2 separate regions of the Homo sapiens genome follow, and region 2 is linked to region 1. Evidence: fine-mapped expression QTL. Tissue or cell type: cerebral cortex. Region 1 holds a variant in brackets; the other region holds the start of a gene. All regions are shown on one strand. Distances are between the middles of the regions.

Region 1 (4,390 bases):
GTGCCACCATGCCTGGCTAATTTTGTATTTTTAGTAGAGACGGGGTTTCTCTATGTTGGTCAGGCTGGTCTCAAACTCCCAACATCAGGTGATCCGCCCACCTAGGCCTCCCAAAACGCTGGGATTACAGGCATGAGCCAACACGCCCAGCCATCTGTTGCTTATTTTTTAAGCAGAGTATTAAGTCTTTTCTTATAGAGTTGTTAGGAATCCTTACATATTCTGGTTGTTAATCTCTTATTAGATGGATAGTTTTCAAATATTTTTTCCCATTCTGTGGGGTGCTCTTCACTTTGTGATTGTATCCTTTGTTGTGCAGAAGCTTTTTAACTTGATGTGATCTCATTTGTCCATTTTGACTTCGCTTGCCAGTGCTGTGGGGTATTACTCAAGAAATTTTGCCCAAACCAATGTCCTAGAGAGTTTCCCCAAAGTTTTCTCATAGTAGTTTCATAGCTTTAGGTCTTCGATTTAAGTCTTTAATCCATTTTTATTTGATTTTTTTATGTGGCAAGAGATAGAGATCTAGCTTCATTCTTCACCATATGGATATCTAGTGTTCCCAGTACCATTTACTGAAGAGACTGTCTCTTCCTCAATTTATATTCTTGGCACCTTTGTCAAAAACGAGTTCACTATAGGTGTGTGGATTTGTTTCTGGGTTCTCTATTCTGTTCCATTGGTGTATGTGCCTGTTTTTATGCCAATACCATGCTATTTTGGTTACTATAGCTCTGTAGTATAATTTGAAGTCAGGTAATGTAATTCCTTCAGTTTTATTCTTTTTGCTTAGGATAGCTTTAGCTACTCTGGGTAATTTGTGATTCCATATAAATTTTAGAATAGTTTTTTTTTATTTCTGTGACATGGATTGCATTGAATCTGTAGATTGCTTTGGGTAGTACGGCCATTTTAGCAATATTAATTCTTCCAATTCATGAACATAAAATACCTTTCCATTTTTTGATGCCCTCTTTAATTTCTTTCATTAGTGTGTTATAGTTTTCATTGCAGAGATCTTTTATTTCTTTGGTTAATTCCTTGGTATTTAATTTTATGTGTGGCTATTATAAATAGGATAACTTTTAAACTTCTTTTTCAGACTGTTCACTGATGGCATATAGAAATGTCACTGACTTTTGTATGTTGACTTTGCACCCTGCAACTTTACTAAATTTATTCATAAGATTTAAAAGTTTATTAGTGGAGTCTTTAGGTGTTTCCAGCTATAAGATCACATCATCTGCAAACAAGAATAATTTGACTTCTTCCGTTCCAATTTAGATGCCCTTTATTTCTTTCTCTTGTCTGATTGCTCTAGCTAGGACTTCCAGTACTATGTCAAATAAGAGTGGTGAGATTGGGCATCCTTAATGTGTTCCAGATCTTAGAGGAAAGGCTTTCAGTTTTTCTATATTAAATATGATACTAGCTGTGGGTCTGTCACATATGGTTTTTATTATGTTGTGTACATTCCTCTTATGTCCAGTTTTCTGAGGGTTTCTTTTTTATCATGAAGGAATGTTGAACTTTATTCAATAGTTTTTCAGCATCAATTGAAATGATCATATGGATTTTATTCTGTATTCTGTTGATACGATGTATCACATTGATTGACTTGCATATTTCGAATCTTCCTTGCATCTCAAGGATAAGTCCCACTTTATCGTGATGAATGATCTTTTTAATGTATTGTTAAATTTGGTTTGTTAGCATTTTGTTGAGGATTTTTACATGAATATTCATCAGAGATATTGGCCTGTACTTTTCTTTTTTTTGATGTGTCTTTGTCTCATTTTGGTATTAGGGTAAAAATGATCTCATAGAATAAGTTTGGAAGTATTCCTTCCTCCTCTTTTTTTTTGGAAAAGTTTGACTAGGATTAGTGTTAGTTTTTCTTTAAATGTTTGGTAGAATTCAGCAGTAAAGTCATTGGGTCCTGGGATTTTCTTTACTGGGAGATATTTTATGACAGCTTTGACCTTGTTATTTGTTATTGGTCTGTTCAGGTTTTAGATTTCTTCTTGGTTCAATTTTGGTAGGTTGTATGTATCTAGGAATTTGACTATCTCTTCTAGATTTTCCAATTTATTGGCATATAATTGCTCATAATAGCCACTAATGATCCTTTGAATTTCTGCAGATTCAGTTGTAATGTCTCTTTTTTCAATTTCTGGTTTTATTTATTTGAATGCTCTCCCTTTTTTTCTTAGTCTAACTAAAGGTTTGCCAATTTTGTTTAACTTTATAAAAAAA[C/A]CAACTTTTTGTTACATTGATCTTTTTTATGGTTTTCAATTTTATTTATTTCTGCTCAGATCTTTATTATTTCTTTTCTTCACTGATTTTGGACTTGGTTTTCTCTTGCTTTTCTAGTTCTTTAAGATACGGCATTAGATTGTTTATTTGAAGTTTTTCCTCTTTTTTGATGTAGGCATTTATAGCTATAAACTTCTCTCTTAGCACTGCTTTTACTATATCCCATAGATATTGGTATGTTGTGTTTCCATTATCATTTCTTTCAAGAAATTTTTCAATTTCCTTCTTAATTTCTTCATTGCCCCACTGGTCACTCAGGAGCATATGTTAAATTTCTATGTTTGTATAGTTTCAGAAATTCCTCTTGTTATTAATTTCTAGTTTTATTCCATTGTGATCAGAGAAGATGCTTGATATTATTTCAATTTTTAGCATGTTTTAAGGCTCGTTTTGTGACTTAACATATGGTCTCTCCTTGAAAATAATTCATGTGCTGAGGAGAATAATGTGTATTCTGCAGCTCGTGGATGAAATGTTCTATAACTATCTACTAGATCTATTTGGTCTATAATATAGATTAACTCTGATATTTCTTTGTTCATTATCTGTCTGGGAGATCTGTCCAATGCTGAAAGTGGGGTGTGGAAGTCTCCAGCTTTTATTATATTGGGACCTATGTCTCTCTCTCTCTCTCTCTCTAGGTTTAATAATATTTCCTTTATATGGGTGCTCCAGTGTTGGGTGCATATATATTTACAATTGTTATATCATCTTGTTGAATTGACCCCTTTTTCATGATATAGTGACTTTCTTTGTCTCTTCTTATAGTTTTTGTCTATAGTTGTTGATGTAAGTACAGCTACTCCTGTTCTTTTATGGTTTTCATTGGCATGGAATATCTTTTTCAGTTCTTTAAGTCTATGTGTATCTTTAAAGCTAAAGTGTGTTTCTTGTAGACAACAGATCATTGGCTGTTGTCTATTGATTGGATAATTTAGTCCATTTACATTCAATGTTATTAATGATAAGTAAGGACTTACTTACTCCTCCCATTTTGTTATTTATTTTCTGTGTCTTTTTGTGTGTGCGTGGTCTTCTCTTCCTTCTTTCCTTCCTTTCTCTCTTCCTTTAGTAAAGGTGATTTTCTCTGGTGATATGATTTAGTTTATTGCTTTTTATTTTCTGGTATCCATTGTATGTTGTTTGGTTTGAGGTTACCACGAGGCTAGCAAATACTATCTTATAAACCATTATTTTAACCTGATAACAATTTAACGCTGCTTGGATAAACAAACAAGCAAAAAGAAAACTAACAAAAACTACACTTTATTTTGTTGTTTTATTTATATCATATAGTACTTCCTTTGTCTTTTTTTGTTGTTGTCGTTGTTTTGAGACGGAGTTTCACTTTTGTTGCCCAAGCTAGAGTGCAATGGTGCCATCTCGGCTCACTGCAACCTCCACCTCCTGGGTTCAAGTGATTCTCCTGCCTCAGCCTCCTGAGTAGCTGGGATTACAGGCATGTAACACCACATTTGGCTAGTTTTGTATTTTTACTAGAGACAGGGTTTCTCCATGCTGGTCAGGCTGGTCTTGAACTCCTGACCTCAGGTGATCTACCCACCTCGGCCTCCCAAAGTGCTCCTGGCGTGAGCCACCGTGCCCAGCCTGTACTGCTTATGTCTTGAAAAGTTGTTGTAGTTATTATTTTTATTGGTTCATCATTTAGTCTTTCTACTTAGGATAAGAGTAGTTTACACACCACAGTTACAGTGTTATGATATTCTGTGTACTTACTATTACCAGTGAGTTTTATACATTCAAGTGATTACTTATTGGTCATTAATGTCCTTTTATTTCTGATTGAAGGACTCCCTTTAGCATTTCTTGCAGCACAGGTCTGGTGTTGATGAAATCCCCCAGAAATCCCTCAGCTTTTGTTTGTCTGGGAAAGTCTTTATTTCTCCTTCACGTTTAAAGGAAATTTTCTCCAGATAAGCTATTCTAGGGTAAAAGTTTTTTCCTTCAGCATTTTCAATATGTCATGCCACTCTCTCCCAGGCTGAAAGGTTTCCTTGGAAAAGTCTGCTGCCAGACATACTGGAGCTCCATTGTATGTTATTTGTTTATTTTC
Region 2 (4,390 bases), 43 kb after region 1:
TTTCCTTAACAGGGGTTCCTGGCAAGTCATTTCTCCCTCGGGCCTTCGGTTTCCTCACCTACAAGATGAGAGGGCTGGACCAGATGGAAATTCAGGGGGTAAGGGGATGTCCTCACGCAGCCCACCCCCACCCCCACGGGACCCTGGAGCCTCCATCCCAGTTCCCACCACGCACCCGCTCCACAAATCCTGCCCAAGGTGAGGGCTGGTCCTGGGTCCTCTGGCTGCCGCATCAGCGAGTGCAGGAGGGAGGGGAAGCCTCCAAGGGGGTGACGTGGGCTCAAAGATGCAACTCGGCCAGGAGTGAACTGGGGCCCCCGAAGGAGGTGTCCGGGCCGCTCCTGGAGCCCAGCCCGGGTCCCCGAACCCCTTACCTCCAGGGTCTGTATCTCCTGCTGGGTGAGGTCGTTAGACACAGCGCACTTGGTGCACAGCCCGCACAGGCTGCCAATGAAGATGACGATGAGCTTCTGGAGCTGCCCGCACTGCTGCAGCGCCCGGCTGGCCGCAGCCCCTGTGCCACCCTCCGTGGCCGCCGCATCACCCCCACCACCGCCCTCCTTCTTCTCTCCCACCGCCTCCACAGGCAGCGCCACTCTATGCAGGCCACAGGGGCCTAGGCAAGGAGCCCGGGGCGCCGGCGCCTAGGCAAAGAATCCCTGAGCCAGGAGAGCTGGACCAGGAGCACCCCTCGGCGCTGCCCTTGCCAGGACGCCAGTAGAGCTGGCAGCCGAGTCTGCCGCTCCTGCCCTCAGAGCCGTGGCGGCGGGGACAAAAATCCTCGGTGGCGGGGGCAAAAAGTCGCGGTGACAAAAAGCGGCGGCGACCGGGGCAAAAAGTCGCGGCAGCAAAAAGCCGCGGCGGCGGGGGCAAAAAGCGGCGGCGACAGCGGCAAAAAGCCGTGGCGGCGGGGGCAAAACGCCGCGGCGGCGAAAAAGTCGCTGCGGCAGGGGGGCAAAAAGCCGTGACAGCGGGGCGCAAAAAGCCGTGGCGGGTAAAAGGCCGTGGCGAGTAAAAAGCCGCGATGGCAAAAAGCTGCGGCGGGCAAAAAGCCACGGCGGCGGTGGGGCAAAAAGCAGCGGCGGTGGCGGAGGGGCAAAAAGCCGCGGCAGCGAGGGGGCAGAAAGCCGCGGCGGCAAAAAGCCAAGGCGACGAGTGTGCAAAAAGCTGTGTCGGTGGTGGGGCAAAAAGCCGCGGCGGTCAAAAAGCCGAGGCAAGGTGGGGGCAAAAAGCCGCGGCGGCGGAGGGGCAAAAAGCCGCGGCGGCGGGTGTGTGGCAGAAAGCCGCGGCGGGCAAAAAGCCGCGGCGGCGAGGGGGGCACAAATCCGCGGCGGGCAAAAAGCCGCGGCGGCGGGGGGTAAAAAGCCGCGGCGGGCAAGAAGCCGAGGCGGGGTGGGGGCAAAAAGTCGCGGCGGCGGGGGGCAAAAAGTCGCGGCGGCAGGGGACAAAAAGCCGCGGCGGGTAAAAAGCCGTGGGGGCAGGGGGGAAAAAGCCACGGCGAGGAAAAAGCCGCGGCGGCGGGGGGGGCAAAAAGCGGCGGGGTGCAAAAAGCGGCGGGGTGCAAAAAGCGGCGGGGGACAAAAAGCCGCGGCGGCAAAATTCGCAGCGGCAAGGGGTCAAAAAGCCGCGGCGGGCTAAAAGCCCTGGCGCCGGGGGGGCACAAAGCAGCGGCGGGCAAAAAGCCGAGGCGGGGTGGGGGGAATAAGCCGCGGCGGCGGGGGGGCAAAAAGCCGTGGCGGCGGCGGTGGAGGGCGAAATAATGGAGATGGAGTGGAAGGCCGGCACAGCTTGGCATTGCTGGAGTGCGATGTGATAGGAAATGAGCAGCCAAAGACAAAAAGATGTAAGTAGGCTTGACTCATTGAAGCTAAGAACCCAGATGTTATCTTGAGGGTATTAACTAATAAGCAGTTTAAATCAGAATGACACATTCTGATTTGTTTCTTGTACGTTCACATTTGGCAGGCATAGATACTGTTTGAAGAGAGAAAAGTCAGTAGAGAGAGGTAACAAACTTAAATATGTGCCAAGTCTAGAAACAAGAGACCAGGGGGATAGGGACCTTTCAAAATAAAATGCAAGATTTGAAAACTGATTGGCTGGGGGATGAGGAAAAGGCAGGTCTTTAAGGTCCATCCCTGTTTTGCTTTAAGTTGTTAGGGGGTGGTTTTATCACATGTTGTAGAATATGTCATTTCAGTTTTGAACATCTTGAGTTAAATTGTCCTAGCATATCTTATGAATTTGATTTTCTTCCCTGGGAAGCTAATATTTCAAACACTTAAAGAGTATATAGATTTCCAACTTGTATCCAGTTTATAAAACTATCTCTAGGCTGCTGATTTCAGGAGGAGGCTTATGAGTATTCTCCTTGCAGAGAATATATCAGGAGTTAACAGCAGCTTCAATATTTGTGGATGACCAGTTAACTAAGCCACCTCTTAGTGTCTTTAGTTGGGAAATCTTAGCTGAAGATATTCAATAATGAACCAAGAGTGACTAAGAAATTCAATATTTAAGTATATTTCATTGTAATTAATTTGAATTGAAGTAGCCATATACAGCTAGTATTTACTATATTGAACAATGCAAATAAGAGGAAAAAATTAATAACCATCTCTAATACCACATGCCAAAATCCTCATCAATTTATTCTAGCTAAAGGAGTTGATCAGAAGCAGTAGTTGAAAGCACCAACTAAACCAGCTGGGGTTAGTTCACTGTCATTCTCTCAGAACCATCTCTCCTCTGAACAAAACAAGTACAAGAGTTCATTGTGAATCTGCATTCTCCTTGCCTATTTTAAGGTTTTGATGTTGACGCAAATTTGTGAAATCCCTCCTGTGGTGTGATATTTCGTTTTCCTTGCTTTGTGTTAGGACAAGAATGCTTCAGCTCTTAATTTAAAATTATGTTTCTCCCTCCTAGGTTGAGTGAACTTAGAATGCATTCTCTGACATATCCAAGATTTTGTTAATATGAATTTCGGGAAAAAAGCATACTTAATTAGCTAAGACGTCTTATTCTAAGCTTGACCCTATGTTCGACATCTTTTGAATTTCTAGTTGCATGGGCTGCTCTCTGACACTGGTTAGTGACCTGGAAGCTCTATTAATGTTAGGGGAGGTGGTGTATGAGCATTAGAGGTATCCTTGCAAGGAAAGACTTGTCTTATCTCAATACGTCTTTTTTTTTTGCACAGAAGAAAGTCAATGTCTGAGTCTTCTAAAATCTTCCTATTTCCAAATTGCAGATTATGATTGATTCCTAAACAAAGACCTAATTTTTGACTCAGAGACGTGGCAAGCTAGTGAATCACCATTATAATTTAACAATCTTCAAGATAAAATTATCTCTGATATTTAGATTTTGCCCAATTATTAAGATATTTGGGTGTTTAGTTAAGAATGGAAAACTCTAGTCTCTTGAGCAGAGACTATAAAGGCCTCAGATGATCATTTTTAATTTTATGCTCTTTTCTTTAACACCTTCAACACAGTTGGAAGCAGCCGATATTCCCCAGAGTTGTTGTGTTTTTTAAACCAAATGCATGGTTCAGTGGTAGAAAACTGGGCTGATCCAAGCTGTTTTCAGTAAACACTTCATTTCAGGTGACCCATTTCATATTAAATAATCTCTAGATCCTGTCTTCGAAACTAACTAGATCAGATAAACTACCCTGGATTTTCTCTTTTTAGGGTCTGAGAGCTGCAGTCACTTTTGTGAAAATGATTACAATGACAAGATAGAGTTGTAGATGGGGAAAATGTTTTGACTAATTTAAGCATAGTGGTATTTCATATGAGAATTTAAGTTACACACATTTGAAAATTATAATGGAGTCTCTTGGCTGAGCTTTAAAAAGAAATAGCGTTTAGGCTAAAAAGGGAACTGCTACCTCTCCTAAAATCAGAAAGATGTTACAGTAATTCTCCATTCTCTAGAATTATCAAGAAGCACCTTTGTGATGATTTACTTTTGCTCTTGCGAGTGTGAGCCCGTGTAGTCGTGGAACCATCAATTAGAATGGTGGCTTTCTGATCCCAAAGTCACTCATTCTGAAAACAATATTTTTCATAAATTTGAAAGTGAGAAGTTTTGATCTTGCCATTCCCAAGTAACTCTCTTAATAAGAGGCATCAGCATGCTTCAGTGACAGCTGTCACCTTCCATTGCTGAGAGTCATCTTTGAGTTCTCTATTTCACTCCCTACACTCCAATTTAGCTGCAGTTCTCTTGGCCAGTCCTATGAAATACATCCATGGCCTAACGACTTCTCACCACTACTACCACTCATGCTGACAGCATTCTCACCTAAGTCACTACCTTTTTTCGCTGGATTAGAGTAGCCTCCCAATTTATTTGCTCACATAACCTATTTATTCTACAC

Alleles and levels. Alleles are on the strand shown, and positions count from the first base shown. SD is a standard deviation of normalised expression in the study named.
As copies of C replace A in region 1, the expression in cerebral cortex of the gene that starts at base 2,107 in region 2 goes down (large effect, 0.75 SD a copy in GTEx).

Evidence for each region.
Region 2: it holds the start of LINC02798, and the variant in region 1 is fine-mapped to the expression of LINC02798 in cerebral cortex (GTEx, PIP 0.90).

Annotation. Positions count from the first base shown.
Region 1 is chr1:121,436,113-121,440,502 of GRCh38, reverse strand. The region is part of intron 1 of LINC02798 (long intergenic non-protein coding RNA 2798); the gene reads right to left. Among named protein-coding and RNA genes, the nearest start is that of SRGAP2-AS1, 40 kb to the right of the region's middle. The variant C/A (reference allele first, on the strand shown) is at 2,257.
Region 2 is chr1:121,393,289-121,397,678 of GRCh38, reverse strand. LINC02798 (long intergenic non-protein coding RNA 2798) reads right to left here and starts at 2,107. Exons shown (of 2, transcript XM_047438024.1): 1 at 375-2,107. The coding sequence starts at 1,795. The coding sequence ends at 752. It overlaps SRGAP2-AS1 (SRGAP2 antisense RNA 1), which reads left to right. Exons shown (of 4, transcript NR_104189.1): 2 at 13-198. RefSeq lists a silencer at 1,736-2,030.